Linked DNA regions of Homo sapiens: all the other regions are linked to region 4. The links come from fine-mapping of genetic effects on gene expression. A gene starts in region 4. Each other region holds a variant in brackets. All regions are shown on one strand. Distances are between the middles of the regions. Region 1 overlaps CNTLN (centlein). Region 2 overlaps CNTLN (centlein). Region 3 overlaps CNTLN (centlein). Region 4 holds the start of CNTLN (centlein). Region 5 overlaps CNTLN (centlein).

Evidence for each region. PIP is the estimated chance that this variant, and not a neighbour inherited with it, causes the effect.
Region 1: its variant is the best candidate, but not a certain one, in a credible set for the expression of CNTLN in whole blood (TOPMed, PIP 0.81).
Region 2: its variant is the best candidate, but not a certain one, in a credible set for the expression of CNTLN in prefrontal cortex (GTEx, PIP 0.63).
Region 3: its variant is the best candidate, but not a certain one, in a credible set for the expression of CNTLN in monocytes (BLUEPRINT, PIP 0.77).
Region 5: its variant is the best candidate, but not a certain one, in a credible set for the expression of CNTLN in whole blood (INTERVAL, PIP 0.67).

The regions. Positions count from the first base shown.
Region 1 is chr9:17,435,116-17,441,726 of GRCh38, forward strand. The region is part of intron 18 of CNTLN (centlein); the gene reads left to right. Among named protein-coding and RNA genes, the nearest start is that of SH3GL2, 140 kb to the right of the region's middle. The variant C/T (reference allele first, on the strand shown) is at 3,278.
Region 2 is chr9:17,422,161-17,428,771 of GRCh38, forward strand. All of the region lies in intron 18 of CNTLN (centlein), which reads left to right. Among named protein-coding and RNA genes, the nearest start is that of SH3GL2, 150 kb to the right of the region's middle. The variant T/C (reference allele first, on the strand shown) is at 3,567.
Region 3 is chr9:17,401,437-17,408,047 of GRCh38, forward strand. All of the region lies in intron 15 of CNTLN (centlein), which reads left to right. Among named protein-coding and RNA genes, the nearest start is that of SH3GL2, 170 kb to the right of the region's middle. The variant C/T (reference allele first, on the strand shown) is at 3,030.
Region 4 is chr9:17,131,326-17,137,936 of GRCh38, forward strand. It overlaps CNTLN (centlein), which reads left to right and starts at 3,715. Exons shown (of 26, transcript NM_017738.4): 1 at 3,715-4,100. The coding sequence starts at 3,741. RefSeq lists an enhancer at 3,996-4,559.
Region 5 is chr9:17,326,945-17,333,555 of GRCh38, forward strand. It overlaps CNTLN (centlein), which reads left to right. Exons shown (of 26, transcript NM_017738.4): 9 at 3,688-3,864; 10 at 5,661-5,786. Among named protein-coding and RNA genes, the nearest start is that of CNTLN, 200 kb to the left of the region's middle. RefSeq lists an enhancer at 5,080-5,726. The variant A/G (reference allele first, on the strand shown) is at 3,022.

The DNA of each region.
Region 1 (6,611 bases), 300 kb after region 4:
AAAACTGTCTTTAAATAATCAATTACTCTTGGCTTATTTCTGCCCTGCTTTACCTCGGTTCTGGAGCTTAGTGCCTAGAGTTCTACTAGGAATATTCAGTGGTTTTGTTTTTTGGTTGTTGTTTGTTTCTAAGAGATATTTTTGGAAAGAGAGGCACTCATTCTGGTCTCATCTGCTTTATAGTTTCTACAAAGCCCTTACTGTTCCAATAATGCTTTCTGGACTTAGTTATTTTTATGAATTTATTTTTATACTGCATTTGCATTACAGTGGTATAACTACCCCTCCAAAAACGGTACCTTTTAAACTTTTATTTAAGATAACACACTGTCACAATGGCTGTTAAGACTATGATTAAAAGATGGTAGGAGGAGCATTTTGAAATATGAAGTGGAATTTGACCTTAGACTATGAAAGGTAGTGAGAGTACTCAAAGAGTGGCTCTTTTTTTTTTTTTTCTTTGAGACAGAGTTTTGCTCTTATTGCCTAGGATGGAGTGCAGTGGCGCGATCTCGGCTCACTGCAGCCTCTGTCCACCCCGGATTCAAGAGATTCTCCTGCTTCAGCCTCCTGAGTAACTGGGATTACAGGTGCATGCCAACACGTCCGGCTAATTTTTGTATTTTTAGTAGAGACAGGGTTTCACCACGTTGGCCAGGCTGGTCTGAAACACCCGACCTCAGGTGATCCACCCGTCTTGGCCTCCCCAAGTGCTAGGATTACACGTGTAAGCCATCGTGCCCGGCCAGGGTAGCTCCTTTTTTACGGGCACACTTCCCATCTGACCTGTCAAGGTAACAAATTCCCTAGCCCTCGTCCACCCAGCTGGTATTTCCAGATCTTTATATTAGAATGTGGCTGTGCCTCTAGGCTAGGGGATATAAGAGAAACAAATAAATGTATTTCCTTATTCTTATCCAAGTGGTGGTCTAGCCTCCTTTTGTGATATTTATTTACCTTTTTACATTATAAACAATTTAAAAGCAAGAATATGCTTTACCTAATTTTGTATGTTCTATAGTGCCCACACCATAATTTGATAAATATTACATATTTTCTCAATATTCATAGAAAACATTATATACTATTGTTTAGTTTATGATTAAACATCATTATCTTCTCTGATTTCTTGATGAATTATTGATTCCCCTACCGTCTGAGTCAGATCCAGCTAAATTCTGCAGAAGCACGTTTTGCTGCAGAAACTTTTTCGGCAATGGCAATCTTAAAGCAGTTTCCTTTTTAGAATTTGAGCTTTCAAATTTGCTTCATATGTTGTCCAATTACATTAACCAAATAATCTTAAATTAGTTTAATCAAGCCTCAAATAAAAGACTTTTGCTAAGTGTCAGAATTTGGAATTAAAAACAGCAGAGCACAGCCCATTCAACAAATGCCTTGGGTTTTCTAGTTAATCTAGCATATAAACATTGAGCATGAAAACTACTAAATCTGAAGAGACCTTTAGCAACCCTTTAACACTAAAAGGGCCTTATTTCGTGGATCTTCATTTTAAAAATTTCTGTATTTGGAGTTATGTGATTGTTACTGTATCCAAACTTATATTTGTCCTTGGTTTATATTTATTTACAGAATTCTTATTTGAAAGATAAAAGGTATTAAACTGTACCAGAGCCATTGTTTTTTTCCTGTCAGGAATTGCAGAATTTTAAATAGCCTCATTTCCGTTTTTGTGATCTGTGTTCACACCGCTAGTAATAATGAAGTAGAAAACTACTCTTTTTGTACCTTATTGCTAATCTCCAGAGTTTTCTTTTACCTTACCCCAATAGTTTGTGTAGTACACATTCCTTGTAGGGTATTCATTTTATATACGTCAGATTCTCTAGGGCCGTGGCTTTTGCCAGATGAAGCACTTTTGATTTTGAGGCTGATGAAACACAGTGCGGTTATTGATCTGTGCGTGACATAGCCTGTCTCTCTCCTAGCAGAGTGTAGCAACATTTATCCAGGAATTTGTGAAATGTCACTCGGATCATGTTCGCAAGGCAAACTGTGCAAAACCCAGGATCAGAGCTGAGAATCCATGTGGAATTGGACGTGACTGTCTTATTCCTATGTCCTGTCTTCTATTCTAGATGAAGCAAGTGGTATTTGTTAACAGAATATCTGTGTCCTATATTAGACTTTGTAGGAAACTATTATTACCACTTGGAACACTGTATACTATAAAATTGCACTTCTTATACTCTGTTTTCAGATTCATTTCTTATCTTACCAAAGAAAATATTAATATGAGAATATGTGACCTGAATAGCATCAGTTAGAAATTTCTTTTCTGTTTAAAATAAAGCAGTGTTATAATATATTGCACAATTTTATATTTCTGGTAGTGTCCTGATTTTTTACATCAACATACTTTCAGATAGGTGTGTCTCATCAATATCAATGTTTCAGGAAGTGAAAAATTGTAGCATATTTATCACTATTGAATTGATATACTATTTAACTGTGCATATATTTTAGAGTTTGGTTTTAAATGACTAGAATATTTGTATGCACATGGATAAGTATGTTTGTTACAATTCAATTTAGTTTAATGTACCTAACACATGTAAAGCGCTATAATAATGGAATATTCAACAATGAATTAAATATGAACCTTGTCCCCGATAATAACACAGTTGAACATATGTATAATAATAAAAGGAAACTGTGAGATATAGAGATATATATGTATATGTGTGTGTGTGTATATATAACATGGATGTTTAAATGCATGTGGAGAGAGAGAGTTATTCGTTCCTGTCATTCTTGATTAAGGCTTTTGAAGGAGTGGTATTTGGGCTTAACCTTAAGGTTTTGTATGATTTTGGAAGTTGTGTGCATTGAACAAAGTCATTAGAAGAAAGGATAGCTTGAAAAGACATCTAGCTGACATAGCAGTTTGTTGAGAATAGTGAATAATCTGGTTTGGCTGTGGTTCTCAACCCTGACCACTTATTATTCTCACCTAGGGAACTTTGAAAAATACTTGTGCCAAGGCCTGACCGTAGACCAATTAAATTTGAATATCTAAGAGTTAGGCCCTGTACCTTGGTAGTTTTTTAAAGCTCTCAGGTGATTCTGATGTAGAATAAGGACTGAGACTAAGGCTCGAGAGACTAGAGATTGAATGCAAGCAACTAGATAAATTATTGTTTAAATATCAAGGCAAAAGATGATTAGGAAGAGATCTAGACAATATTAGTAGAAATAGAAAGTTTTTTAAAAAACAAGAGACTTTGCAGTGTTATAATCCCAAAAGTTTGATGAC[C/T]AATTGCATATAGGAAGGTAAAGAAAAAAGAGGTATTTAAGATATTTTTCAGGTTTTTAACAAAGTGAGTAGAAAGTTGATGATAGAAGAATTGTATTTGTGACAATGTAATACACTAAATATTGTGGTGAGAAAATACCAAGAAAGTTGAATAAAATATTAAAAAGGGCCTCATAAATGCATACTAGAACTTGCAAAAAGAATTAAAAAGAAACTAAATCCTTAGGATCTAAAATCAACAACAGCTTATCGTTTGTAGCCAAATGGTAATTTGTTAGTGAACTGGAAATATCAAGTAAGTAGTAGGATATATGAGTTTAAAATTTAGGGGATAAGCCTGGGCTAGACATATAAATTTTGCAGCCATGAGTATGTAGATGGCATTTAAAAATGAAGCTGAATGAAATCACCAAGGGCGTGGAGATAGGTACAAAAGAGATAAGGTCCAAGATCTGAGCTCTAGGCCCTCCAATATTCAGAAGTTGGACAGATGAGAAAGGACCAGAAAGGAGAGCCAGTGAAAGGGAAAAGCAAGAGAAAAGAGAATCTTAGAAGCCAAATGGTTAAAGTATATCAAGAAGGGAATGATATACTTTATCATTCTCTATGCCAACTGCTGCTTATTAGAATCAGTTCATGGGAGGAATTGAGGAATGGGAACAGAAAGAGAGGAATTGGAGGATATAATTAAATATGCATACATTTTAGAGTTATTTTGAGGAGATTTGCTGGAAAAGGGAGCAGAGAGCCTCTAAAATATAAACATCTAATAACTTAGGCTCAAAATAAATAATTCATGTATTGATAATATCAGTACTTTTAAGTAATGCTGATAAAAAGTCATTAAAGATATACATTATTTTAACAGAGCAATAAAAAGTCTTTCTCTAAGTATTTATCAAAAATGTTCACATAACTAGGCCACAAAACAACATTCCATAAATTTCAAAGGATTTGTATCATATAAATAGTATTATCTAACACAAGTGAAGTAGAAAATACTTTAAAAAGTTAACTTAAAAATATCTGATGCGAATTTATAGAGGCATTTCTAAAAACTAATGGGTCAAAGAAGAAAACAAAATGAAAATGAAAAATACTTTAGATTGAATCACAATGAAATAACACAGATGGAAACTTTTAGAATGTGACTAAGGTGGTACTCAGATGGAAATTTATATCCTTAAATACTTGTAGTAAGATTAGAAGAAGTCTAAGAATCACAGAGCTAAACATTTTATTTAAGAATGAGAAATTGAATAAACCCAGTGTTGTAGACTAAATATATGTGTTCCCCCATAATTCATAACCCCCAATGTGATCATTTCAAAAGTGGAGCCTTTGAGAATTAGTTAGGGTTACATTAGTTCATGAGGGCGGGGCCCCCATGATGGGATTAATGCCCTTATAAAAAGAGGAAGAAACAGGAGATCTCTCTGCTCTCTGCCATATGGCAACTTGGAAGAATGGCCTCACCAGACACCAGATCTATCCACAACTTAATCTTGGACTTCCCACCATCCAGATCATAATAAGTAAATGTTTGTTATTTAAGCCATGCAGTCTATGATAATTTATTATAGCAGCCCAAACTAAGACACCCAAATAAAATAGAAATATTAAAATAAGGGCAAAGTTGATACTGTAGAAAGTAAAAATGCAGCAGACATGATCAACAAATCCAGAAGCTGGATCGCTGAGACTAATAAGTTGACAAACATTAACAAGTGTTGATAAGGATATAGAGAAATTGTAACCTTCATACAATGCTATGGGAATGTAAAATGGCACAGGCATTTTGGGAAATGGTTTGACAGATCCTCGCAAAGTGAAACATAGAGTTACCAAATAACCTACCATTTCCACTCCCAGGTATACATTTAAGAGAACTGAAAACACGGCCGGGCATGGTGGCTCAAGCCTGTAATCCCAGCACTTTGGGAGGCCGAGGCGGGTGGATCATGAGGTCAGGAGATCGAGACCATCCTGGCTAACAGGGTGAAACCCCTTCTCTACTAAAATAAAATACAAAAAAAAAAAAAAAAAATGAGCCGGGCGTAGTGGCAGGCGCCTGTAATCCCAGCTATTCGAGAGGCTGAGGCAGGAGAATGGCGTGAACCTGGGAGACGGAGCTTGAAGTGAGCCGAGATCACACCACTGAACTCCAGCCTGGGCGACGGAGCGAGACTCCGTCTCAAAAAAAAAAAAAAGAACTGAAAACATAAGTTCACATAAAAAACTTGTACATTAATTGATAGAAGCATTATTCATAGTAGCCCAAAGGGGAAACAACCTATGGGTCCATCAACTTATGAATGGAGAAAAAACTGTGGTGTATCCATGCAGTGGATTATCATTCATTAATAAAAAGGAATAAAATACTAACATATGTTACAATATGGATGAACCTTGAAAGCATATTGCTGAGTGGAAGAAGCTAATAATAAAAGACCATATACAGTATGATTCTACTTATATAAAATGTCCAGAAAAGGCAAAATCCATAGACAGAAATTGGATTCAGTGGTTGACTAGAGCCAGGGATGGGAAAGGAGTTTCTGTAAATGGGCATGAGGTTCTTTAGAAGTACTCTACAATTAGTGTGTGGTGATAATTGCACAACTCTGTAAATATACAAAACATCCTTAAGAAATAAACTTAAAGAAGTGTACACCACCTTTAAAAGATAAAAACGTGCCAACCAAGAATATTATGTCTGGCAAAACTGTCTTCAAAAATGAAAGTGAAAGAGACTTTCCCAGACAAACAAAAGTAGAGGGACTTCATCACCACTAGACCTTTCTTAGAAGAAATACTAAACTGAGTTCTTCAAGTTGAAACAAAAAGATGCTAAACAGCAATACTTAAAAGCATGTGAAAGTATAAAGGTCACTGGTAAAGGTAAACAGTGGTGTGTAATCACTTTTTATTCTGGCATAGAAATTACAATAATAGGTATTAAAAAACATAACTAAAAATATGATAATGAATACATAATATAAAAAGATGTAATTTGTTTCACCAAATTACATGTGAGAAGTAAACGTATGAATATTTTGTATGTGATTGAAGTTATGTTGTTATGAGCTTAAAAGATTGTTATAAACAATATATTTTATGTAAGCTCCATGGTGATCACGAAGAAAATACCTATAGAAGATACATGAAGAAAGTGAAAAAGGAGTCAAAACGTGTCACTGCAAAAAAAAAAAAAAATCAATGAAATACAATGAAAGATAGCAACAGAGGAAAAGACAGACAAAAGAGCTATAAGACAGAAAACAAGGTAGCAATAGGAAATTTTTTCACCATCAGTAATTAAATATAAATGGAT
Region 2 (6,611 bases), 290 kb after region 4:
TAATACACTACGATAAACGTTCTTTTCTTTAGCACTTTGAATATGTCATGTCCCTCTTTCCTGGCCTGTAAGGTTTCCACTGAGAAGTCTGCTGTATTAGAGCTCTTTTATACGTTATTTATTTTCTTTTTCTGCTCTTAGGATCCTTTCTTTATCCTTGACCTTTGGGATTTTGATTATTAAGTGCCTTGAGGTAGTCTTCTTTGGGTTAAATCTCTTATTTGGTTTAATTCTATCACCCTCTGATACGTGAATTATTCTCCTGTGTATTTTTAAATAGCCCATCTTTAAGCTCACTAGTCTTTCTTCTCCTTGATCAAGTCTGCTGTTGAGAGACTCTAATGCGTTTTTCAGTTTGTCAATTGAATCGTTCAGCTCCAAAATATCTGATTGGTTTTTAAAAATTATTTCAATATTTTTGTTAAATATCTCTGATAGGATTCTGAATTTTTTCTCTGTGTTTTCTTGGTTCATTGAGCTTCCTTAAAACAGTGATTTTGAATTCTCTGTCTGAAAGGTCACATATCTCTGTCACCCTGGGATTGGTTACTGGTGCCTTATTTAGTTCATTTATTGAGGTCATGTTTTCCCGAGTGTTTTTGTTGCTTGTGGATGTTTGCTGGTGTCTGGGCATGAAAGTGTTAGGTATTTATCCTAATCTTTGGATTCTGGGCTTTTTTGTGCTCATCCTTCTTGTGAAGGCTTTCTAGATATTCAAAGGAATTGAGTGTTATGACCTAAGTCTTGGGTCACTGAAGCCACAAATCCGCTAGGGGATACCCTAATCCCGGTAACACTGTGATTCTTGCAGACTTGTACCACCTTGGTGGGCTTAGGTAAGATCCAGGAGAATTCCCTGGATTGCCAGACAGAGACTGTCATTCTCTTCCCTCACTTTGCCCCAAACAAAAGGAGTCTCTCCTTCCATGCTGGGTTGCCTGGAGTTGGGAGAGGGGTGACTGAGTCACTTCGATGTCCACCACTGCTGAGGCTGTGCTAGGTCACTCCTGAAGCTAGCAACATAGTGGTTATTGCCCAAGGCCTTTGGCAACTAGTGCCTGGCTGCCACTGATGTTTATTTGAGGTCCAAGGGCTCTTTAGTCAGCAGGTAATGAATCGTGCCAGAACTGGGTTCTTCTTTGCAGTGCAGCAGGTTCTCTTCTGGCCCAGGGTGGGTCTAGAAATGCCGTACAGGAGCTAGGGCCTGGAATCTGGGGCTTCAGAGATCTGCTTGGTGATTTATTTTACTGTGGCAGAGCTTTTACCCAAGTTGCAAGACAAAGTACTCTTTACTCTTCCTTCTCCTTTCTGCAATCAGGAGTCTCTCACTGAGCTTCCCTGCCTGGAGTAAAGGGAGGGGTGATGTAAACACTCTCTTTACTACCACAACTGATGTCTCAGTGGGTTATGTGCACTTCAGTTCAACTGGCTCCAAGCCCAGCACAGCACCCAGACTTGCCCAAGGACCGCAGATTTTATTATTGCCTTTCATATTTATTCAGTACTGCAGGACACTTTAGTTAGCTGGTAGTGGAGCTTGCTGGAAGTCAGTTTCCTACCAGTGGGGTGAAGGACTCCTCTAGGGCGGGGATAGTTTAAATGCACCTTCTCTGGGCACCAGCAGAATTCCGCCTTGTGTTGTGTTCCGCTGTGACAGGACTTTGCTCTGTCCCCCAAGCACACAGATTCTCTCTCGGCTCAGTGTAGCACTGCTGGGGAATGAGGGAAGGATGATGTAGGCAATGCAAGACTCTCTTTTCTACCCTCTTCAGTGCCTCTTTCTTTGCTATGATGTTAAAACCAGCTTTTAACCTGGTTTGCCTGATTGCTTACCTGAATTTTGGTTCTTAGGAAGGTGCTTTCTTCCCTGGATAATTGTTGAATTTGATGCTTCTGAGGGAAGAAAGTCACTGGAGTTCTGTTTGGCCATTTTGCTCTGCTTCCCTCCCTCAATCTCATTTATTATTAAACTTAATTCGTTAGAATATATTTAAGGTAAATTTTCTTAAAATTTGTTTCTGATTAAAACAATGTATTTTTTCTCCTTACATATTAAAATCTGTATTGCAAAAGTGAACATCAAGGGATAGAAATAGGGTAAGGCAGACTATATTGACTTACTCTTCCAGTTTGAATGATCAGATTTTTGACTTAAAGGTGTTACTCATAATTTAATTGAAACATGAAAATTAGTCCCAAATCTTAAGACTAACAGGATGTAAATGCTCTCTTTTTTTGTTCCAATAATATTACTTAAGTGTATTATGGCTGTGGATACCTCTTTCTAGTAACATATGTGTCATCCTAAAGACTCAAACAGTATTAGCTCACAGAGACAAACTACCAGAATCATATTATCAAAGAAAATGTGGCCATTACCCATAGCACACTTTTTAGAAAGTCTGTTGAATGTTTTATAGTAGGCACTAAATATGTATAAAACTTCAGCTGACAGATTTTGCTGTGGTTTCAATATGTCCTCCAAGTTTTATGTGTTGGAAACTTAATCCCTAAATTCTTATGTTGATTAGAGGTAGGGTAATTAGGATTACATAAGGTCATCAGCAGGGTCCCTATGATGGAACTGGTAGCTTTATAACAGGAGGAAGAGAAACCTGAGCTGACTGGCACACTCTTGCCCTTTCACCATGTAATGCTCTCTGCCATGTCATGACCTGGCAATAAGGCCTTCACCAGATGCCGGAACCATGCTCTTAGACTTCCTAGCCTCCCAAACCATGAGCTAAATAAAACTCTATTCTTATAAATTGGCTAGTTTGTGGTATTCTGTTGTAGAAATAGACAGCAAACTAAGACGGATATCACATGAAATTTTTGTGGAGTTATACATGCTGTTTAGTGTATCTTCTAAAAAGCTCTCTCCTGAAATAATATCTATATTTAGCGAAAACAGAGTAACCTTTATCATTCATTTATATATGAATGGATGAGTTATTTTATTGATTATCTCTCAATGTTTGTTTAAATAACAAAATTGGTTTCAAGAGTTGTATTATTGCTACAGACTGAATTGTGTTCCTCCAAAATTCATGTTGAAACCCTAACTCCTGGTTTGATGGTGTTGGGAGATGGGGCCTTTGGGAAGTAGTTAGAGTTAAAGGAGGTCCTGTGGGCCCTCATCATGTGGTTAGTGTCCTAATAATAATAATAAGAGACACCCGATTCTACTCTCTCTTCCATAATAGGACACAACAAGACACCTGGCATCTGCAAGCCAGGAAGCGATCTGCTGCTAGAAGCTGACTGTGCTGACACCCTGATCTTAGATGGCTAGCCCTCTAGAACTGTGAGAAAGTAAATTTCTGTTCTTTTAGCAACCCAGTCTGGTGGTTTGTTTTGACAGCCCAAGCAAACTAATAGATTTTGGTGCCAAGAACAGGGTGCTGCAGTAACACATCAAATGTGGAAGTGGCTTTGGAATTGGGTAATAGCTAGAAGATTTTTGAGGTGCATGCTGGAAATACGTAGGTTAAGGGTGATTCTACTGAGGTTTCACATGGAAATGAGGAACATGCTACTGGAAACTAGAGGAAAAGCAATCCTTA[T/C]GATAAAATATTTTTTTTAAAAAAACCTTGGATTGGCTGAATTGTGTTCTAGTGTTTTGTAGAAGATAGAACTTGTGAGTGATGAAGTTGGTTGAAATTTCTAAGCAAGCATTACAGGAATGGCTTGATTTCTCCTGATTGCTTGGTTAAATCTAAAGGAGAGAGATAAACTGAACAGAAATTATTAAGCATAAGTATACCACAACTTGGAAGATATGGATATTTTTCAGCCTACTGATAGTGCAAATAACGAGAAAGGTTGTTTTGAAGAGAACATTAAGAGTGTGGCTGTACAATCATTTGATGAGGAGATTTGTGTGAATGTGAACCAGGGACCTAATCCTTCTTAGCAGAAATCAGGAACAGAGATTGGATTATGCCAGGAGCAACCAGCTGGGTCTAAAGGAAATGAAGAAATAGACAATGAAGGAAAGCTGTCAAACTTCTTGGATTTTCTGGATGGGCCAATAGATCTATTTAACTATAAACCTGCACAATCTTTCAAGAAAAGAGAAGGACCCCAAAAGCAATTCACATATTGCCATGTTGCCACTCCCATCACGGGCCCAGAGTGCAAAGGCTAAGGGATTAGAGCTACCTCCACATTGGTTTTAAAGAGAAAGAAAGTGTATAACTTCTAAATTGTAGTAAGAAATAGAATTTTTAAAAGTGTAAAAAGTAGACTAATATCCATTAATCTAAAACTATTTACTGTTTGTCTTGTTTCGATAGTCTTCCTACATCTTACATATTGTTATCTGAGAGAGCTAAAGTCCAAAATTTTTGTCATGTTGTATTTATATCCATATGTACATGTATATAATATATATACATTTTATATATGTAATAATTTTATTTGAGTTATTAGAATCTTTTTTATGAACTCTTGTTCTCTTCTTGGACTTTAATTTCTTCTTTTGTATCTTTAATCATTTTAAACAAACTTATATATTCTTTCAAGTCACATGTTCTTGAGGTTCTAATCTTCCTGTTTATTTTTTCTGATTACTTTGAGCCAGGATGGGATGTTTCTACATGTGTGTACAGTTTTAATTTGCAGCTCAGCAAATTAAAATTGTAATTCATTGTGGTAATTCCTTGAACCCTGTCTTTGGGGAGCATTCATCCAGACTACACTACTTAATATTTATGTTAATTTTCAGGGTAGTAAGATTCCTGACCTACACTGAAAAATTCAGATTTCAACCCACATGAGGTAAAGTCACAGATATAAACATTCCCAGTAGAGATAACTGAGAATTTTTGTACTCTGCCCTGGTCCCAATCAGAGACATATTTCTTTATTACCTTTCTATCCTAGCAATATTTTTTAGTCTACCCTTGAACTGAAGTTGCAGCACTCCAGAGGATTCTCAAATTTGGCCTCTCCGAGCCCAAGGTCAAAGTTTCAGCTCCTGCTCCCACAATTCCTGAAGTTGCTGGCCCTGGTGATTTCCATGCAGCAGGTGCTACCGAACCTCCAGTCACATGCTCCGTGCTCTGCTGCTGGCTGCTCTCTATAGGTGACTATGATCCCAGCACTTGAGTTGCTGCTTCTTTTTTTTTTTTTTTTTAGATTTTTCAGCAATACTCGAAAAGAATACTTGATATCATATATTTTCTATGTGATACAGAGGGTTTTCAGGTTATATTGTCTTCCAGACTGCCAATCTTTAGATAGTTTAAAAAAAATTTACCTGTATTTCCTGTCAAATATGATATCAAAGATTGAACAAAATATTTAAAATTTCATGAGTAAAGAGTACAGTGGGTGTATTTTAGCCTGTAAATCTCACATGAACTTTCAGTGGCTGTTTTCTTTTTTTTCTAAATTATTTACTAGAAGAACAAAGACAAATCATACTAATACATATAGGCATGACAGTTCAATACTATTCCAATTCCTTTTCCCACTTAATATTTTCTTTACTTCATGATTCTGTGTATTTGGTGGCTAAGGCAATTAAAACTACCAACATTTAAGGACTGATCCTTGAAAATATTATTGCCCTTAGTTGAAGTAAGCCAGTGTTGGGGCTCTCAACGGTGGATTATCACATCTGTACCATAGTAGTCATCTTTCCTCTTGTCTCAGATTTCCAAATTTGGCTGCATAGTAACCCATTAAGATCATTCTTTCATTCATCAAGCATTGCTTGGGTATCTTCTGTGTGCTAGGGTCCATGAAGTATAATGGGAACACAACAGTGAACTAGACACAGGTATGGTTTTACTCTCATGGAGCTTATTTGTGGTAAGAGACAGAATATAATAACCATGCAACAGAATAAGTAAAATAATTAAAGATTACAGAGAGTGCATTGTAATTAGGGATAAAGGGAGAGAATGGTTGGTTTTAGATCACCCTTGTTCAAGGAATGGCATTTCTGAGAAGGTGACATTGACACCAAGGCCCAAAGGATGAGAGGTAGTGTAACAAAATTAGCAGAGTCACTTTCAGGTTTATTAGGAGTCCTCTTGCACTTTTCAACTTCATGAGTACACTGCCCTGCAGTACAGAAGAAGGATAATAAATATTAATGGGGAAAAGTTAGTCCAGACAGATTATGATAATAATAATAGTGAGAATAGCTAACCTTTACGTGCTTACTACGTACAGGGCATCTTCTAAGCACTTTGTGTGCAATCATTCATTTAATTTTCACAACATCCCTGTGAGATTAGATACTATTTTTATCTCCATTTTACAGAAATTAACTTGTATAAGTTCATATGCCTACTGAATGACTCAGCTACTGTATGCCTTCTCAAAAGTTTATTTTGATTTGTTGTATTTATTTTTTGAAAAAGCTGATTTTGTTTTTCAGTAGGTTATATTTGCACAGTGGAAGCTTTTGCAAACTTAGTATTTTTCTTATTTGATCTTTATAAACTGTGACATAATTATTCTCATTGAAAAAATAATTCAGTTGAGATCCAGAGAGTTTAGTTAACTTGTGCATGTTTATTTCACTAGTATGTTTTAGATCTTTTGCTCATATTCTGGTGTTCTGACTCTAACTAGTAGGCCTTCTTTACTATGCA
Region 3 (6,611 bases), 270 kb after region 4:
AATCATGGCTCACTGCATCCTCGACTTCCTGAGCTCGAGCTACCTTCTACCTCAGTCTCCTTAGGAGCTGAGACTACAGCACGTGCTACCGTGCCTGGCTAATTTTTCAAATTTTTTGTAGAGATGAGATCTTGCTACATTGCCTAGGCTGGTTTTGAACTTCTGGTCTCAAGTGATCCTCCTGCCTTGGCCTCAGAAAGTATTTGGATTACAGATGCAAGCCATTGTGCTTGGCCTAGATTAGAGGTTTAATGAAACAATGAAAATTTTAAAAGTATTACAAGAAATTACAAGATTACTTGTTTATAACTTTGGAGCATCTCTAGGAAGTATACTTAAGCAAGAGATGAAAATACAGAGCCAGATATGAAAAAGCGTTAATAGAACTTTAAACATCTATATAGTAACAGATATATAAAAAGAGTTAAAAGTCAAATGACTAACCAGAAAAAGGTATTTACAACACATAAAGAAGGTAAAGGACTAATATCCAGAAGATTTAAAGATCATCTACAAATTATATAAAAAGACGCATCAATAGAAAATGGGCAGTGCTATGGACAGGAAATATTAATGGCTTGAGGAGATGACTCAGTGAACCAAAGATTATGAATATGTCTGTAGCAGACAGAGGTGGTATGTGGAATGCCTGACAAGCATGACAAGAACCACATATAGACACCTAAGGCTATGCGATTTCTGTTGACAACTGTTCTCTATTCAAAAAGCTAGTACTACTGGGAAGAGGCTGCAGCAGTGGCAGATATTTTATTTCCACAAATCCCCCATCAAAATAAACAAAACAAATAGGAAGGCATAGCCAAAATCTCAAGGATAGCATCTACAATAGAATTAGTGACAAACCCAAAATATGAACAGGTAGGGACAGCCATCGACAGCTGTATGACTTGCACTGTATCAAGAGAGAGAAAATTGGTGTCCGGAGAAAAGAAAAATACAGTTCTTCTATGAGCTATCTATACCAAAAGACCAGAACTTCCTCACTGAACTAAGTCCCACATGGAGGGGATGACACTGTGAAAAGAAACTGAATTATAGGGACAGTAGCCCCCTCTGTTGGTTATGTATCAACTTGTTATGTGTTTTTGGATGAGATTAACATTTAAATCAGTGAGCTTTGGATAAAGCACATTGTCCTCCAGCATGGAGATAAACCTCATTTAGTCTGTTGAAGGCCTGAATAGAATATAAAGAATGGCCTCTGTGAGCAAGAGGGAATTCTCCAGAAAATTGCCTTCAGATTTAATCTGCACCATCAGCTCTCCTGGGTCTCTAGCCTGCCAGACTTCACACTAGAACTAGAAAATTGACTTTCCTGGGTTTCCACCTGCTGGCAATTGGACTGAAGCTACACCATTAGTTCTCCTGAGTCTCTAGCCTACTGGGCCATACTGTAGATTTGGACTTCCTAGCCTTCACAATCACATGAACCAATTCCTAAAGATATATACGTGCATGCATACATCCTGTTGGTTCCATTTCTCCAGAAAAACCCTGACTAATCCACCTCTCTACTTCCCACTCCCACTCCAAAAAAAGTAGTGAAGATTGAGATCAATGTTGAGGGAGTGCGTCAAAAGAGGCATTTTTCAGTATATCAAAAACTTGGAAGGAAAAGTTGGAAGATTGGTGACAGGGAGGTCTGTGGGAAGGTTGGTGGAAGATTGGTGGCAGGAAGGTCTGTGGGGAGGTTCGTGGATGGACCTTTTGGAAGAGATACACACAAAGCCCATTCTGTGAACAAAATGACCCATTGTATAGATCTTGCCTATTTCACAGCTATCTGAGGGCTTGCTTAATGGGTTCATGAACAAAGTGGCTATGGCAACAGGTATAGCTTCTACATGGCACAGGTGTCCTGCCACTAATCTTCCAATTTTTCCTTGCAAGCTTTTGAACAAAATTGACTTTCTTTCACCAAAACTTGTCTGGCGACTGGGCTACTGGCACTGTTGAATATTCAGCCTGTTCACAAAAAAGACCAATTGCAAATCCCAAAAAAAAGCTTCATTCTCCAGAGGAAACCAACCAGTCTCTTAGTGTCAGGTTGATTACAGTAGGCCTCTTCCATCATGGAGGAGGCATCAATTTTTTTTTTTTACAGTAGTTTTAAGTATTTTAGGTATGGTTTTGTCTATTATATTTTTACCAATATTACCATTCTTAGATTTACAAAATGACTTATATATCCCTATGATATTGCAGAAAACTGCCTCCTTGGATGCACTTGCTCAATCTTGATCTCAACCTTGGAGGTAGGACTGGGAGGTAGGGAGGTGGCCTAGTCAGCATTTTCCCAGAGAAGCAGACTGAAAGACACATTTTCTTCTTAGTTTGAGACAGAGTCTCGCTCTGTTGCCCAGACTGGAGTGCAGTGGTGTGATCCTGGCTCACTGCAACCTCTGCTTCGCGGGTTCAAGCGATTCTCGTGCTTCAGCCTCCCAAGTAGCTGGGGCTAGAGATGTGTGCCACAACACCCGGCTAATTTTTGTATTTTTAATAGAGATGGGGTTTCACTATTTTGGCCAGACTGGTCATAAACTCCTGACCTCAGGTGATTCACCTGCCTCAGCCTCCCAAAGTGCTGGAATTACAGGTATGAGCCACCAAGCCCAGCTAAAAGACAGAGTTTATGGCAAGGGATATATGACAATGCTCTGTGTCTTCAAATTCACTGGTATTACTATATTTTTCATTATTCAAAGGCAACTGGCTGTATACGACAGTAGATGATCAATAGGCTCCGTTATGGCACCAGCTAGAAGACAATATTGAAGTTAGGGTATATGCCCTAAACTGAGAGTTTATTATTTTATCTCCAAGAATGCATAGGTCCAGGAATAAAGTATTTTAGGTTGGCGTGGCCGCTGTAATTATTTAACCAAGTAACCCACTGGAGGAGTTTTTGCTTCTCATTAGTATGATCTTGGGCTAGGGGATTTGAGAGTCCTGATGCCGAAGGTAGGAAAGTTCTTTGAGGGAACACAATTATGGTCTGTAGAGGTAGA[C/T]GCTGAGATTGTACCCTGGCCATTTTGGATTCCCTATACTGAGCTAAAAAGCGTCAAAAGGAGCTACGGTATTAGCCAGAGCAATTATCCCAATTATTGAGGTAAAATTAGGAGGACCATGTTTGGAAACCAGAGAATTCATTATACACCTGTTAGTACTCCTTTACCTAGTAGTCCTCTGTATTTGCTGTCCTTGGCAGTGAAATTTTAAAAAGTTGTGTACAATCCTTGTTTCAAATTCCATTCATCCCTTCATCATCCTTCTGAAACAAATTTTTTTTTTTTTTTTTGAGACAGAGTCTTGCTCTGTCTGCCAGGCTGGAGTACAGTGGCGCGATCTTGGCTCACTGCAGGCTCCACCTCCTGGGCGCAAACGATTCTCCTGCCTCAGCCTCCTGAGTAGCTGGGACTACAGGTGTACGCCACCACCCCAGGCTAATTCTTGTATTTTTAGTAGAAATGGGGTTTCACCATGTTAGCCAGGCTGGTCTTGAACTCCTGACGTCAGGCAGTCTGCCCACCTCGGCCTCCCAAAGTGCTGGGATTACAGATGTGAGCCACCGCGCCCAGCCTAAAACAATTATTTTGAGGGTCACTACCACTTTGCCAAATTCAAAGGTTGATTCTCAGTCCTCACCTTACTTGACCTCTCAGCAGCATTTGACACAGTTGATTTCTACCTCTTGTTATTATAGTTTGCCATACCATACTCTTTATTTTCTTCTTCTCACTGATATTTAACTTCAGTGTCATTTGTTAGTTTTGTGACATTCCCCCTCAGTCTCTCAATTTTTAAGAGCTTCAGTCATTGGACATTGTCTTCAGTCAGTGGACATTTTGTGTTGCTATAACAACACACACAAAAAAATACCACAGACTGGATAACTTATAATGAAAGGAAATTTATTTCTTACAGTTCCGGAAGCTGGGAAGTCCCAGGTTGAGAGCGCCACATTTGATGAGGGTCTTCTGGCTGTGTCATCATGGCCGAAGGTGGAACGGCAAGGAGCCTGATAGAGCAAGAGGGGGCCAAATTTGCTTTTATAACAAGCCTGTTCTTATAACAAACTCACTCCCATGATAACATTAAATCGTTCATGAGGACTCATGATCTAATCACCTCTTATTAGATTCCACCTCCCAACACTGTTGCACTGAGGATTGTGTTTCCAAGATGTGAACTTTGGAGGACACATTAAAAGCTGCACTCATTGTTTTGTGATCTCATAGTATTTATTAACATCATTGTTACCACCTATATTCCAGCCACCCCAAAATGTATGTATCCATTCTATACCTCACTTCTGAATTTTATTTTATTATTATTATTTTTATTTTTTTAGATGGAGTTTTGCTCCTGTTGCCCTGGCTGGAGTGCAGTGGCGTGATCTCAGCTCACTGCATCCTCTGTCCCCTGGGTTCAAGCGATTCTCCAGAGTAGCTGGGATTACAGGCATGTGCCACCACACCCAGCTAATTTTGTATTTTTAGTAGAGATGGGGTTTCTCCATGTTGGTCAGGCTCTGAATTTTAGACATGTAAAGTTGACTGTCAACTTAGCATCATACTTGGATATCAAATAGCCTAATACAAATTCCTGGGCTTTACCCCACCAAGCCTATTTCAGCTGCTGTCTTCCTCTTTCTCACTAATGATAATTCTATCTTTACAGTTGCACTGACCAAAAGCTTGATACCATCTTTGATTCCAGTCTTTCTGTCAGTCATTACATCTACTCTGTCAGGAAATCTTGGTGGATTTCTTTAGAAAAATATCCAGAAGTTGACCATTTCTTATCAATTTTGTTTGTCATCACTCTTATATCTATCATCAGTTGCCTGGAATATGAAAAGAACTTTCCTAACCACCCTCCCTGCTTTCAGCCTTGTTTTTAGTCCATATTTACTGTGTTCTACCTACACTGGACTGACTGTTGCTCGCTGAAAGCAGGAACTTTTAACTTAGGGATTTTAGTTTGATGTCTTCTGCCTGGAATGTATTTAGCCAGATATCTAAAACAACCAACTCCCTCTCCTCTAAGTTTTGCTTCAGTATTACTAATGATCAATCTATTTCAGATTTCAGCCTGCCACCATTTTACCTCCCATAATTTGGATTCCTTCCTCTTATCTTGCTCATTTTTTCCCCAGTGGTCCTTAATAATTTATAACATACTATATCATATTTCAGATTTATTGTGCTTATTGTTTTCTTCGTGGATAGACTAAATTTATTCATGGATAGACTGTAAAGAATTTGTTCATCAATTCTTTCACATGCATAGGGCATAGTAGCCATTCAATAAATGTTTTTTGAATAATGAATGAATAAAGAATTATAAAGAGAAGGAAGCACTCTGCCCCATCACTAAGACACGTCTCCCTCCTTCTGCCCCTGCCCACCCCCCACCAAGGGCTCTCCAATCAAATCTAAACAGTTTGTTTTGAGAGTGTCTTATTGTGAAATATGCTGCTTTTTATGACACTTTTCATACCACTTTGGCCATTACATATTGAATTTCTGCTAAGTTTTGGCCAAACAAAAAAGAGGAATAGAACATAAAAAGAGGTAAACAATTATAGTAGAACACATAAGCAAATAGATTATAGTATTCTGATTCAGAAATAATGAATTCTGGGATACTGAAATAACTTGTAGATTTGATCAATTGCTGTTGGTATTTTGAAGGAGAACCCAAATGATATGAGAATATGGGAAACAGAAAAGTGTAGTTGTGACATTAAAAACACAAAGATGGGTAATTCTATAGTTGGTGTTTTTGAAATAAATCCTAAGTAAGGTTCTGGGACATTATAAAAGAATACTTTGTGAATGTTTCTTAAAAGAAGTAGTGATTTCTCAAAGCCAGTATGAGTTCTTCAAGGGAAATTCTTATCAGACTAACCAGTAACCTTTTAAAATAGAATTACACTAAATACAGAACATCTGAATTCCATCAAAGCATGTTTATCAAATTGTGATTAACATGACGTTGAGAGGGATGTAAAATACGTCACACAATAGAATCAAGATCCCCAAAGATCTCAGTAGACTGGGAATATAGTTACACAAATGCCTACAGGGTAGTTTATTTGGCTATAAAATACCAGTTGCACTGTACAATGGGAGAAATATGTGGCTTTAATAGTTGTCTGGGTGGTTTTGTTAAATCTTATTTGAAATACTTTAGGTGGTTTTGTTAAATCTTACTTGAGTCTATAGTATGATGTATACGCCAGAGAAGCTTACACACTTTTAGTCTGCATCTACCAAGAGTTTTACTCAGTACCTCTCATAGTGTCCCAGGAAGATGAAACTGAATTCTGGACATGATGCTCCATCATGATAAGCTGAAACACATTCAAGACTGACCAGGGAGGCTGGGCGTGGTGGCTCACGCCTGTAATCCCAGCACTTTGGGAGGCTGAGGTAGGTGGATTACCTGAGGTCAGGAGTTCGAGACCAGCCTGACCAACATGGTGAAACCCCATCTCTCCTAAAAATACAAAAAATTAGCCAGGCATCGTGGTGGGCACCTGTAATCCCAGCTACTCGGGAGGCTGAGGCAGGAGAATCGCTTGA
Region 4 (6,611 bases):
TAATACATTTTTTCTCTTTTAAAACAGAAGTTAAAAATAAATTTTAAAAATTAAAGTAAAAGAGGCAATTTAAGTACCATATTAATTGGCACATTTCTTCCATTATTTCCCAAGATTTCGACTATACAGTGATGATATTGAGAGAATTATGTGTTTCTCTATTCTAATATACTTAATCCTCAGCAGACTTCATTATGTATTTCTTCAGAACAGACACTATCACTTTTAAATATTAGGACAAAGAGTTGAACAGGAAAAACACCTTGATTGTTTTGCACATTTTTATTCACATAGCAGTGCAGATATTTAACTTATCCTTCTGAGTCATAAGTGTTTGTATTTAACATTTCATCCGTTTCTGTCATTTCAGCAAATAACTAATACAAGAAAGAACTCCTTATGCATACTTCTAGAAATGTGCACGTTTCTTTTCTTAAAAATTGTCTGCCAGTAAAGAACTTTTATAACTCTACAACAAAAAGACAAATAACCCAATTAAAAAATAGCAAAGAACTTGAATAAATAGATATTTCTCCAAAGAAGAGAAACAAATGTCCAAAAAATACATGAAAATATGCTCATTGTCATTAGTCATGGGGAAAAATACAAATGAAAACCACAAGGAGACAGCACTTTACACCCACTAGACTGGCCATAAAAAACAAACAACAACGCATGCTCTCACTCATAGGTGGGAATTGAACAATGAGAACACTTGGACACAGGGTGGGGAACATTACACACTGGGGCCTGTCATCGGGTGGGGGGAGGAGGGAGGGATAGCATTAGGAGATATACCTAATGTAAATATGAGTTAACGGGTGCAGCACACCAACATGGCACATTTATACCTATGTAACAAACCTGCACGTTGTGCACATGTACCCTAGAACTTAAAGTATAATTTAAAAAAAGCAAATGACACAAAACTAAAACAAAAAATAAGTGTTGGTGAGGATGATGAGAAATTAGAATGCTAATACATTGCTTATGGGAAGGTAAAATGACACAACCACTGTGGAAAAGAGTTTGGTGATTCCTCAGTAAATTAAACATATGACCTAGACATTCTACTCATAGGTATATAAACAAAAAATTGAACATAAATGTTCAGACAAAAACCTGTACGTGAATGTTTATAGCAGCTCTGTTCACAATAGGCAAAAGGCAGAAAGAACCCAAAGGTCCATTAACAGATGAATGGATAAACAAAATGGAGGATATCCATACAATGGTATATTTTCAGCTATAAAAAAGAATGAAGTACTAATACATGCCATAACATAGATGAACCTTGAAAACATTATGCTAATAAAAGAAAACAGACACAAAAGGCCACATATTATATGGTTCCATTGATATGAAATATCCCAAACAGGCAAAACCGTAGAGACATAAAGGGAATTAATGGTTGCTTGGGGCTCGGGGGCAGTGAGAATGTGGAGAGACTAATGTGGGTATGTGGTTTCCGCCTCCGGTGATGAAAATATTCTGGAACCAGATAGTGGTGGTGGTTGCCTAACATGGTGAATGTAGTTAATGCTGCTGAATTGTTTTTTATTTGTAGCCATTTTATTTATTTATTTATTTTTTGAGACAGTCTTGCTTTATCACCCAGGCTGGAGTGCAGTGGTATGATCTTGGCTGTTTGCAACCTCTGCCTCCCGTGTTCCAATGATTCTCCTGCCGTGGCCTCTCTAGTAGCTGGGATTACGGGAATGCACCACCACTCCCAGCTAATTTTTGTATTTTTAGCAGAGACGGGGTTTCACTATGTTGTCCAGGCTGGTCTCGAACTCCTGGTCTCAAGTGATCCACCAGCCTCGGCCTCCCAAAGTGCTGGGATTGCAGTCGTGAGCTACCACGCCTGGCCTATTTGTAGCCATTTAAAATGCCTACGATGGTAAATTTTATGTTGTGTATTTTGTGTATTTTGCTCCAATAAAGACAAAATTTAAAAAAATGCCTAGTCAAAGAGTCAGGATATTATCCTTTTGGGAGGTCACATATACATATTTATACCACTGCTTTTCAAAAGGATCTTTTTATGATCAGGTGAAATGATGTCCTTTTGAGTGAATGACATACAGCAATTAAAAATGTGCATTAATACTGATTTGGGGCCAAACACGTAACTTATGTGGTTAGACTTCCCAGTCTTAAGTCTAGTGAAATCTCACAGACTATCAAGACCAAATGTTGTATTTCAAGTCACAGGTGTGGAGACAGGGTAGCGATCAAAGTACAGGTTTTCAGAGTTAAGTGGAATTCAGTGAATTCAAAGCCTAGCTTTTCTGATACCAGACATGGCACTTCAGAGAAGTTACAGTAACCTTGCAAGTCTGTTTCCTCACTAGTAAAAATGGAGATATATAATAATCTAATTGAAGGTGACATATGTATTAAGTGAGTTCATATATGAAAAGTGCTTAGCACTGGACTCAGCATATGGTAAATGTTCAGTAGGTTAGCTAGTTCTAAGACAGGCTTATAAACATACTTTTTCTAATGTACTCTTTAATAAGTTTTTGTGAGGAATTCACCTTCAGTTTGAAAGAAGTCCACTTATCTTGGTTGCCTTGGCAGGATTCTAATTGGGAGGGTGTCTTTTGGCATCCTGACTAGATTCTCATGCAGAGATGGTGATATTTTGGTTAAATGAAGTTAACAGTAAAGTGGTCATCTCTCTACTTCTGCTCTCAACCCCCATCTCAGCTTTCCCCAAGTATTCTGGAACCCTTTCTGAAGAAGAGGGCAGTTCTAACTTTCAGGGATGTTCTGGTGCCAGCTCAATATGCATCTCATTAATCTTATCAATAGTAACAAAGTATTTGAAGGGCAAAGAAAGATACGATTACTACCTATTTGAAGTTTATAAAGAAAGCCAGAAGAAAAAGAAAAAAAAGAGAACAAAAGATAAAGTAGGTCTTGTTTCTTCATCCACGCTCCAAATTACTGATTTCAAACTGCTCCAAGGACCCAAACTGTTCAGCAATGTGGGCTACACTTCCTCTGATATCCAGCCAACGCATAAAGAAGCTGACATAAAAACTCAAAGGAAATCATGACTCCTGCAAAACAAAAGACAAAGGGTGTACAAAGGATCATCATTCAAGTTGGAAACCTGCTTGATAGTCCCAGATCAGCACAAGGCTTTCCACATCTCCTTGACATTAGTCAGCTGGATGTCAGCTGTACTAAAGCAGTTTTGCCAAGGGGTGTGAAGAAAACACTTAAGTGTAAAACGTATTCCTTGATCCTCAAGGAGCTTACAACAGGGCTGGGGAGATTAGCCGTGTAACTGACACTCCAGGGCGGTCAATGAAACGTGTCACACGAGTTGGCAGGGGCCTTGAAGGAGAGGGATTTCACAGTTAAGGATCATTTGGGGCTGGGGGCTTGTCAAGGAAGGCTTTAAGAGGTGGGATGTAAGTGGCAGGCAGGGCTTTAGGTGGGCGGGAAATCCAGGCGATCCTGGCCAAGGACTCAGGCACAGGACGCTGGGATGGCCTGCCCGGCGGACCGGCCTTACCCTTTCGGGCCACGGCGCGTGCGTACCCCAAGGCTCGCGCTGGGCGCATTGCCCGCGGGAAGCCGGCCAGGACCAGAGAACACGGGACACCGCGGGCCAAGGCGGGAAAAGCCTCGCGCATGCGCGGTTCGGCGTTCCGGGCTCGCCGGGTTGGGGAAAGGGAGGTGGAGTTTCCAACAGGGAACTTGACCCGTTAGCAGCCGCAGCCATGGCGGCGCGTTCGCCTCCCTCACCGCACCCTTCGCCCCCAGCGCGACAGCTGGGCCCCAGGTCCCCACGTGTTGGGCGGGGAGCTGAAGTACACGCAATGCGCAGCGAGGCCTCGGGTTTTGCCGGCGCAGCGCGGGAGGTGGTCGCGGACGAAAGTGATAAAATCTGGGTGGGTGAAGAAGGGTCAGGGGGCCGGCGAGGGCCTGGGGGGGCAGCTCCGGCTCATGCTCCCCTCCTCAGCGCGCCCATGGGGTCCAGACGGCTAGAGGGCATCTCGGTAGAGGAGGCGATGGTGACCCGGACGCAGCTGCTGGAGGAAGAGCTGAGCAGCCTAAAGGAGGAGTTGGCCCTGTGTCAGGTATCGAGGAGTCTCGCAGTCCCCCTTTCCCCACCACAGCGGGGCCGGGACCCGTGGGGAGGCGCGCCTTTCTCCCTCTGCCTTGGGACCTACCCCGCCCAGCGACGCTCCCTGGCAGATGCACACCCTGCTTCGCTCGCGGCCGGGGGCTGGAGGGACGCGGCTGCGCCCGGCTCCCCAAACCCGGGCCCCTGCCCCTTTCCGAACTGCGGCCAGACAGGCTTCGCCTCCGCGCCCGGGTTTGGTTTTGGTCACTTGGATACTCGCAGTCGCATCCTCTCCGCTTCCCCCCCAAGCCCAAGTTCTTGGTGGTGACGGTAGCTGATACCTGCCGGGGGCCCAGGAGTGACATGCAGTCCACTAGTTGAAATGAACAGGAAAGTGTAAACACTTCGGTTAGAGTAAAATCCATCGATGAAGGAGCCTGTTTTTAAAATTTCAAACCCACACTTGGCTTTGTTTTTACCCAGTCAAACTTAAGTTGTAAACACAGACGAGTAACGTTTAGAAAGTCTCAGAGCCGGGAACTTAACAATAGATGATGCTTGGTACTTGTTTATTAACCAGCTATGGTAATTCCGCGGTCCTTGAGTGAGAAATCACATTTTCATGTGATCTTGCCAGTGAAAAACATTTGCTAAATCAATTGCATTAAAATTACTTTCCTGTTTGTAGAGTTTTTGTAAGGATGGACTTGACTATACTCATGTTCAAAGAGATTGAATTTTCCTTTAGTTTTGCATCCTTACCATCATCTCTTTTGATTTTACCAGAACCTTTAGATAGGGTTGGGAGATTGGATGTGGGAAACTCACTGAACAGTAGATCTTTAAGTCACTCTGTCTTCAACTTAGAAACCAATTAGGAGCTGCTGAACATCAAAGTAACTTTGTGAACAGTATCATCAGTTTAATAAAACAGTTCATGAAATTCATTCTCTGTCGCCCAGGCTGGAGTGCAGTGGTGCAGTCTCAGCTCACTGCAAGCTCCGCCTCCCGGGTTCACGCCATTCTCCAGCCTCAGCCTCCCGAATAGCTGGGACTACAGGTGTCCGCCACCACGCCTGGCTAATTTTTTGTATTTTTAGTAGAGATGGGGTTTCACCGTGTTAGCCAGGACAGTCTCGATCTCCTGACCTCGTGGTCCGCCAGCCTTGGCCTTCCAAAGTGCTGGGATTACAGAAATTCATTCTCTCATAGTTTGTTCTGTTGGATTCTTTTGCCCATTTTATAGGTCCTTGCTGACTGAGTGAAGGGTGTAAAAATGGGACCATCTTCAAATTGAATGTGCCTTTGGTTAAACAAGGTTGGGACATTTAATATGGTGCCCTCTTTTCGTTTTACCATTTTTCTGTTCTTCGTTGGATAAGGAGCAAAGGGATAAATAAATGACAACAATGAATTGAAGCATTTGTCATCTGCAGACCTCACCCTTTGGGGAGTTTTAAGATGTGAACCCATGATAAAGGCCTTTGATACTCTGAGTCCTAATCTAAGACACTCTTTGGCATATTTTCCGCACTCTTTCCTCCCACTTCTGCCTCCCCACATAGTTAGGCCTTTAGCTGGCTAAAGAGCTAAGATACTTTTTTATGACCGACTTGGTTAAGGAAGTCAGTCTATTGGAAACAGCCTGATGAACCTCTTCCCACAAATACTTACATTCTTTAAAAATGTGGCTCCAAACATGGTGTTGGCTTTTGTGACCTCGGACATATATAGACTAGGAAAATGATTGACATACTCTTGGCAAATGTAAGAATACAGAGATGGTCATAATAGTCTAGAATGATGATCTCTTAGATTTTGTAATATTAATACTCTTATATAATTGTAGGCAGTATCCCGCACCATAAAAATCTTAGTCAAATCAGACTCCTGCTCTTCGGGAATCTTGGGGAAAAATAGTAATTGAACTCCCAATTGTTTTGTAAAAAGCATTTAGGTGATTAAATATTCACTTTTATATCTTTTAAAGTATACTCTCCCGCTTATTTATTCAGCTAGAGATCACAGTACCCAAGAATACATAGCATTAAAACTGCTGAAAATTACAACTCGAAGTAAAATTTTGTATCTCAATCTAGTAAGTACACACATATACAAACATATATTTTCAGAAAGAATACATGCCCTAATACTGTGTGGGCTGATATTTTTTCAGTTCTATTCCTTTAAAAAATGCTGTCCAGATCTAAATTAATTTCAGAACCCAACAAGGCTTGAAACATACAGTTTAGGAAAAAGAACACTGCTAATTAGTCCATGGTCATAAGTAGTAGCTTCATTTAATTTGTTTTGCTTTCACATTCAACTTATGGGAATTCAGTGATGTGTGCTTGGTGAAGTTTGAGTAATTCCCCATACCATTCTACATCATTGGAATGCCTCAGAATAAGCATGTAATAGAAAGCAATCAAATGTTTCTCTTAATATCAGCATCTCATCCCACTCTAAGTGATTGTATTATCTAATTAAACTTTAAAAAAATATGGCCCCCTGATTAGCAACT
Region 5 (6,611 bases), 200 kb after region 4:
GACCTTAGGAAAAAACTAAGGAAATATGAATAGACTATGTCCTTCAGTTACTAATAATGTATGAATATTGGTTCAGTAATTGTAACAAATGTACCATACTAATTTAAGATGTTAATAATAGGGGAAACTGAGTGGGTGGGGGTAGGAGGTCAGGGAGAACTCTGCATAGTATCTGCTTAGTTTTTCTTTACATAAAAAAACTGTTGTAAAAAATAAAGTCTATTAATTTTTAAAAAGTATGTTAAATGACAAAAATATAGTAGTTAACCTTTTTTTTTTTTTTTTTTGAGATGGAGTCTCACTCTTGCCCAGGCTGGAGGGCAGTGGCGCAATCTTGGGTCGCTGCAAACTCCGCCTCCCAGGTTCACGGCCATCCTCCTGCCTCAGCCTCCCGAGTAGCTGGGACTACAGGCGTCTGCCACAGTGAGACGGGGTTTCACCGTGTTAGCCAGGATGGTCTCGATCTCCTGACCTCGTGATCCGCTCTTCTCGGCCTCCCGAAGTGCTGGGATTACAGGCATGAGCCACCGCACCCAGCTGTTTCCTTTTTTTTTTTTTTTTCAAAGTCTGAGAGATATATCACAAACTTACTAGTAGGAACTTTGAGGGATGAGATTGTGAAGAGACTTTTATTTATATTTCCCTTACCTATACTGAAATTTTTACATTGAACTCATAGTCATTTTATTTGCAAAAAAATAAATATTTCTATTTTGAAAAGCATTTAGGCCGGGTGCAGTGGCTTATGCCTGTAATCCCAACCCTTTGGGAGGCCGAGGCAGGTGGATCACCTGAGGTCAGGAGTTCGAGACCAGCCTGATCAACATGGTGAAACCCCTTCTCTACTAAAAATACAAAAGTAGCTGGGCATGGTGGCAGATGCCTGTAATCCCAGCTACTCAGGAGGCTGAGGCAGGAGAATTGCTTGAATTCAGGAGGCAGAGGTTGCAGTGAGCCGAGATTGCACCATTGCACTCCAGCCTGGGCAACAAAAGTGAAACTCCGTCTCAAAAAAGAAAAAAAAAAGCATTTAGTGACATGTCCATTGTAAAATCTTTAAGGAAATTCAGGTAAGTACAAAGAAAATAATTCATATTACAGTCCCTCTACTTAGAAATCACACTGTAACATTTCAGGGTTGTTTTTGTACCTTATGCATGTTTGGTGAAATCTATTTCTACATATAATATACCCTTTTGTACCCTACTTTTCTCAGTTTATCATAGATATCTTTCCATTTTAGCCTTCAGCATAATTAGAAGTAAATTAAAGGTTTGGTACATTTTTATGAGCTTTGATGCATCTTTCATAATTTCTCTAGAAAATTGATAGCAGATTATACTTCTACCCACTACCACATTCTCAAAGTAACCCATAAACTGGGTCCAACCAACATTTGAAAATTTGGACACTCTCCTTAGAAATCCTAATTCTTTGCTTTTCGTGAAAAATCAGTAAATCTAGCAACAGTGGGGCACATTCTTCCCTGAAAACAATTGGCTGGAGTTGAGCGGCAACTGCCCTGAATTCCCTCCTTACCACTCAGCAGTGGGGCTGAGTGTTGACACTTCATTTTGCTCATATTTAATACTTAAAAAAATGGTTTTATTAGGAGAAATGTAAAACACTTCTTGTAAACATGTCTGTAACAAAAGTGATAAAAGGCAAGAGAGAGACAAACCAGACTTAAAGAAAATGGGAACATGAATAAGTTACTTTGTGAAGGGGAGGAACATATCTACTTGGTTAATATGTATGCAAAATGCCTCTGTTGGATGAATTTTAAAGCTATTACTTTAAAACACATATTTATTTATCTGCATTATCTTCCTGGCTTCTATTCACTCTTTGATAGTATTTTAATTGTGAAGTTCTCTGATTTTTTATTGAGGAATTTTGAAGGAATGCTGCCTAAATATCCTTTATTGTTATCAAAAATATTAATATCATTAATATAATATCAGTAGAAATATTAAAAATGAATCCATTATTATAGTGACAGTATCCACTGTTGGAGCATTGTTAATGTCTTATATTTGAGTTATTTATCATAGCTTCTTGACTGAATATTAATTTTATAATATTCCTAGCTATAGCATTATAATCCATTGATGACTTAGGAAGTTCATTTATTGACGAACACAAGTTTGCTTGTTGGATATACCAATAAACTAAAATTATGTTTTTCTGATTTTATTCTAAGTTTTTGTTTGACCTTAAACAAATTATTTAAAATTTATTTTGTATATGATAGGATGTTAATATAACATTTATAATTTTATTAAAGGAAACCTAGACAAGAGCAGGTAGCCTTTGAAATAGTTTAGCTTGGCAGCCCAACCAAAGGAAATATTTCTAAACCTCAGAAGTTTGACTATAAAACAGGAGAAAAGATAAAAAATAAAAGTTGTACAACGATTAAAATGGGGATAAAAGAATAGGGCAAAATCATTTAGACTTCCTGGAAGAGAAATGCTTAAAATATTTTAATTTGATGTTCAAAGCAAGATAATGAAATAAGTAATATATTGTAAGTATGGTAACAGTACAATGTAAACAATACTTTGAGGAAGATAATCATATGGTAGAATAAAGGTTGGAAACAAATGAGGTGATTTAAATATGAGAAAAGTGTAATAGTATAAATCAAATATGGTCCCTCTCATTATACAAATTGCAGGTTAGAATTAGGAAAATTTTGCGTATCCTCTCAAAAAAGAAAAAAGCAGGCACAATTGGAAAAGGATGATGTTTCCCATTGTTGGTTCAAAAAAGTTAACCGTATATATTTTTCTCATAGTACTTAGGAATATCATTTAGGAAGGATGGGGCCCTTCATCAGTTTAAGTGCAAATATTTTCAGGGCTACTAGATCCTTATTGATAATGTTAGAATCATAAGATTTGACATTTGTTTGCCTGTAAGTCAACAAAAACTGTTTTCATGTGATTCTGTGTTTTTGTTTTTGTAAATGTAGTTGTTAATTTGAAACAGCGAATTTGCATGGGTTTTAATGGCCTC[A/G]AATACATTCAGTGGAGATGGTAGTCAAATTTTGCAGAATTCCAGTTTTCATGAACAGGTTTCCTACAAGATTAGTTTTCCTGTGACTTCTGTTGTTAAAATGTGGAGCTTACCATTAGCAGTTTATCTGAAACATGAATAAATTTCAAAGGAGAATGCTGTAAACTATATTGACTTAAAATTGTCAGGGTTCTTTGAGGAGTTGTTATTAAATTAGTTTACAGTAAAAGCTGATTGTACTTATAATGCTGTTGTTTTCCTTTTCCCAGGTTTATATTCTATGGTATTGTATGACTCTTGATGACCAGATGGTGGATTGACTGTTTTGTGAGGCAATACATATGTGTATAATCAGAAATTTGAAATGACTCATTTATAGATGAGTGGTGTGTATCATGCAGCCATGCTTTAAATTTTTTTCCTTGAAATCTATATGACAGCATTATTTATGAAAATACTTGCATATAGACTCTTGGTTATTTTATTGGAAAATACTATTCTATGGAATGAAAAGGTTCAGCTCCTGCTAGTTTATTATTAAAAGGAAAATTTCCTTCTCTGAATATTTACAATTTCTATAATATAGTGTTACATTTAACTATTTATTTATAAATAATGTAAGATACAAACATAGATATCTATTTACAATTATACTTTTTAAAATAGGTACCTCATCGCCCATCCTTATCAAGCTTAGAAACGTTAATGGTTTCACAGAAGTCTGAAATTGAGTATTTACAGGAGAAACTAAAGATAGCAAATGAAAAACTGTCAGAAAACATATCTGCCAACAAGGGTTTCTCCCGAAAGAGCATCATGACAAGTGCTGAAGGAAAACATAAGGTAGGGACATTTTGTCATTTTGTGAATTTGCCAGGATGAGGCTGGAAAGACAAGAGATGAAGTTAAAAAACAAATGGCAGCATTTACTTCTCTGCTTGTATTTCGGGAAACTTTTGAAAAATATTATGTACCGAACTCTTGTTAAATAAGTTTTAGGAGTAAGGAGTTTTCCCTTTTTAAAGACTGAGTTATATTCCCAAATTAGTTAATTAAATATATTATTAGTGCTATACCCATTTTGTCAGTAAATTAACATTCTTATATTAAAACTTTGGTAAGTATTCCTCATCTCTCTCATATATTAATCTATCTGATTAAAAATTTATTTTTAAATGGTATTTACTCACTTTTCTAATTTGAATTAAAAGAAAAATATATCTAATATGTCTTTCAATCAGATATGATGTTTAAAATACTGTCTGTGTGGAAAATAAAATAGTAAATGAATTTTAACACTAACTTCTGCACTTGTTATATATTTTTATAGATTTAAAGGGATAGCATTAAGAGAAAAATAAGCAAATTTTACATGTTTCTCGTTTATTAATGTCTCAATTTTTTTTAGTATTCATTACATAGTTGTGTTACGCTGTAAAAGATTCTACAGAATGTTGACTAATATAAAAATTCTAAAATATCATGTAGTACATACATTATTTCTAGATAAATTGAAATAACATTTTCCTCAGAGTAAGAGTTTTAGCATATTTTTCACACGCTTGTTACTTCAGCAATAAAGGAATAATAGTTTTTATAATAGGAAGCCATGTTGTTAAGATAATTGTTTTTGTTTCTTTCCATTTTTTCTTATGGGTAGGACAAACTATCTTAATAAAGGAAGTATTTAAAATTTGAACCATGTTTCTGTGGTACTGTTATTCATGCTCTCTGAAATTATTAGTAATTTTCAGAAAATGAGATTTATTTATTAAAACATAACTGCATTATACATTTCTTGCCATTTTGAAGTAGTTTCACAAGCACTGAACTTTATTTAAATGAAAGAAAACATTCATAAAATTGAAATACAGCATTACCGGGCCTAATTTGGTTGCTTGCTCGATTGCTGAAATTTAAAAATGTATGACTTTGACTTTTTTCTGCCTTTAATAAAAGTCAAGAAAAAGAGAGGGGTATTATGGCCAAAATTTTCTTTCTTTTTGTAAGGCCATGCAGTAAGGATGAGCACTGTGTTGCCCAGCTTAATAGTTGCTTTCACATATTCTTTCTCCAGATTGGTATATGAAGCTGTACATAATATAAACGTATTCTTGTCTCTAGTTAGCCACATTATAGTTAATGACCATATGGTCATTATGGTATAAGATCTACTGTCTGTTGTATTTATATTCCTCAAGCATATTGTTCCTTCAACTTCACAGTGTGTTAAACTATTTCAAAGGGAAAAAAATCCTTTCCCTCTTGTTTCTGGTTGTCCTATCAAGTGTAACCTTGGACCCTTATAGAGCAATTAGACCAGCCTCTATCCCCTCCTTTGTAATGAGGTTTCTTGCATTTCTGAGTCTATAACCCTTTAGTCTTCCCTAATGGGACATCATTATTCTGAAAGAAACAATGTAAATGTAAATGAATATTCTCATTAACGAGTCACAGAGAAACCTTTAGCGGTAGCACTGTGGTAATTCCGCTTGTTATTTCTCTGGTATTCCATGCAGGATTTTTTTTTTTTTTATAATTCATTATTAGTATTCAAAATTACTTGTTCTTTAATTTTGCATGTCTTTCATAATCCAGTGTTCCAACTAGTTCAACCATGTCCTTGTTTTATTCTCGAGGAACCACCTGTGAAACGTTCAAGGTCTTTGTCCCCAAAGAGCTCTTTCACAGACTCAGAAGAGCTACAGAAGCTGAGAAAAGCTGAAAGAAAGATTGAAAACTTAGAGAAGGCACTACAACTAAAGGTGAACATTAAATCATTTCTTTAGTAGTAACCTTGCAAAGATAAAAATATACCAAAGTAAACATACAGTTCATAGATTACTAGTTGTCCTTTTTCTTTCCTGAATTTAATTGCCTGTATAAAAGTGTATAATCAGTTCATCTTGTTATTAAGATTTCTGAGGATGATAAAATAATATAAAATATTTGCTACTTGAAAAGTAAATGTTTATTTACTACTTTCAAGTTATTTGGTAATATTTTGTCTTAAAATTGGGAATAAATTTCTTAACCCTTTCCCAAAGGCAAAAAATAGAATTGTAGCAAGTGAAAAGAGAATTTCTTCTTCTTTATATATGATAAACATATGTAAATGAAAGTGAGTTTAAAAGCATATTAACCTAGCTCAGATCACTTACAATTATCCTTTATAGAAAAATTACATTTAGTCAAAATGAAATATATATATATTTTTTCATTTCAGCTGAATTTGTCTCAGAACATGTGACATTTGAATGAGCACTCTACCATGTTTAAGAAACATGTATGTTATCGACCAGTCTTTGAGAGCTTATATTAATACTTCCTAATTCATACTTTGTGAAATCTCTTTTTCAATATGCAAGTTGTTCATACATATTGAACCCATTTTGTGTGACTACATTGAGGGTTTTTTTTCTCTTTCATTCTTCATTCACAATTACCTGAAGCTGTGCCCTATTTGAAGTTTAATCATATAATTCTCAAGTAGTTTTATGATATTCTGTAAATCTAGTGCTTTACACATGATTAGAATGCAGTACACATGAAGCTCAGATTCTTTGTCATATAATATAGATTACTCTTAA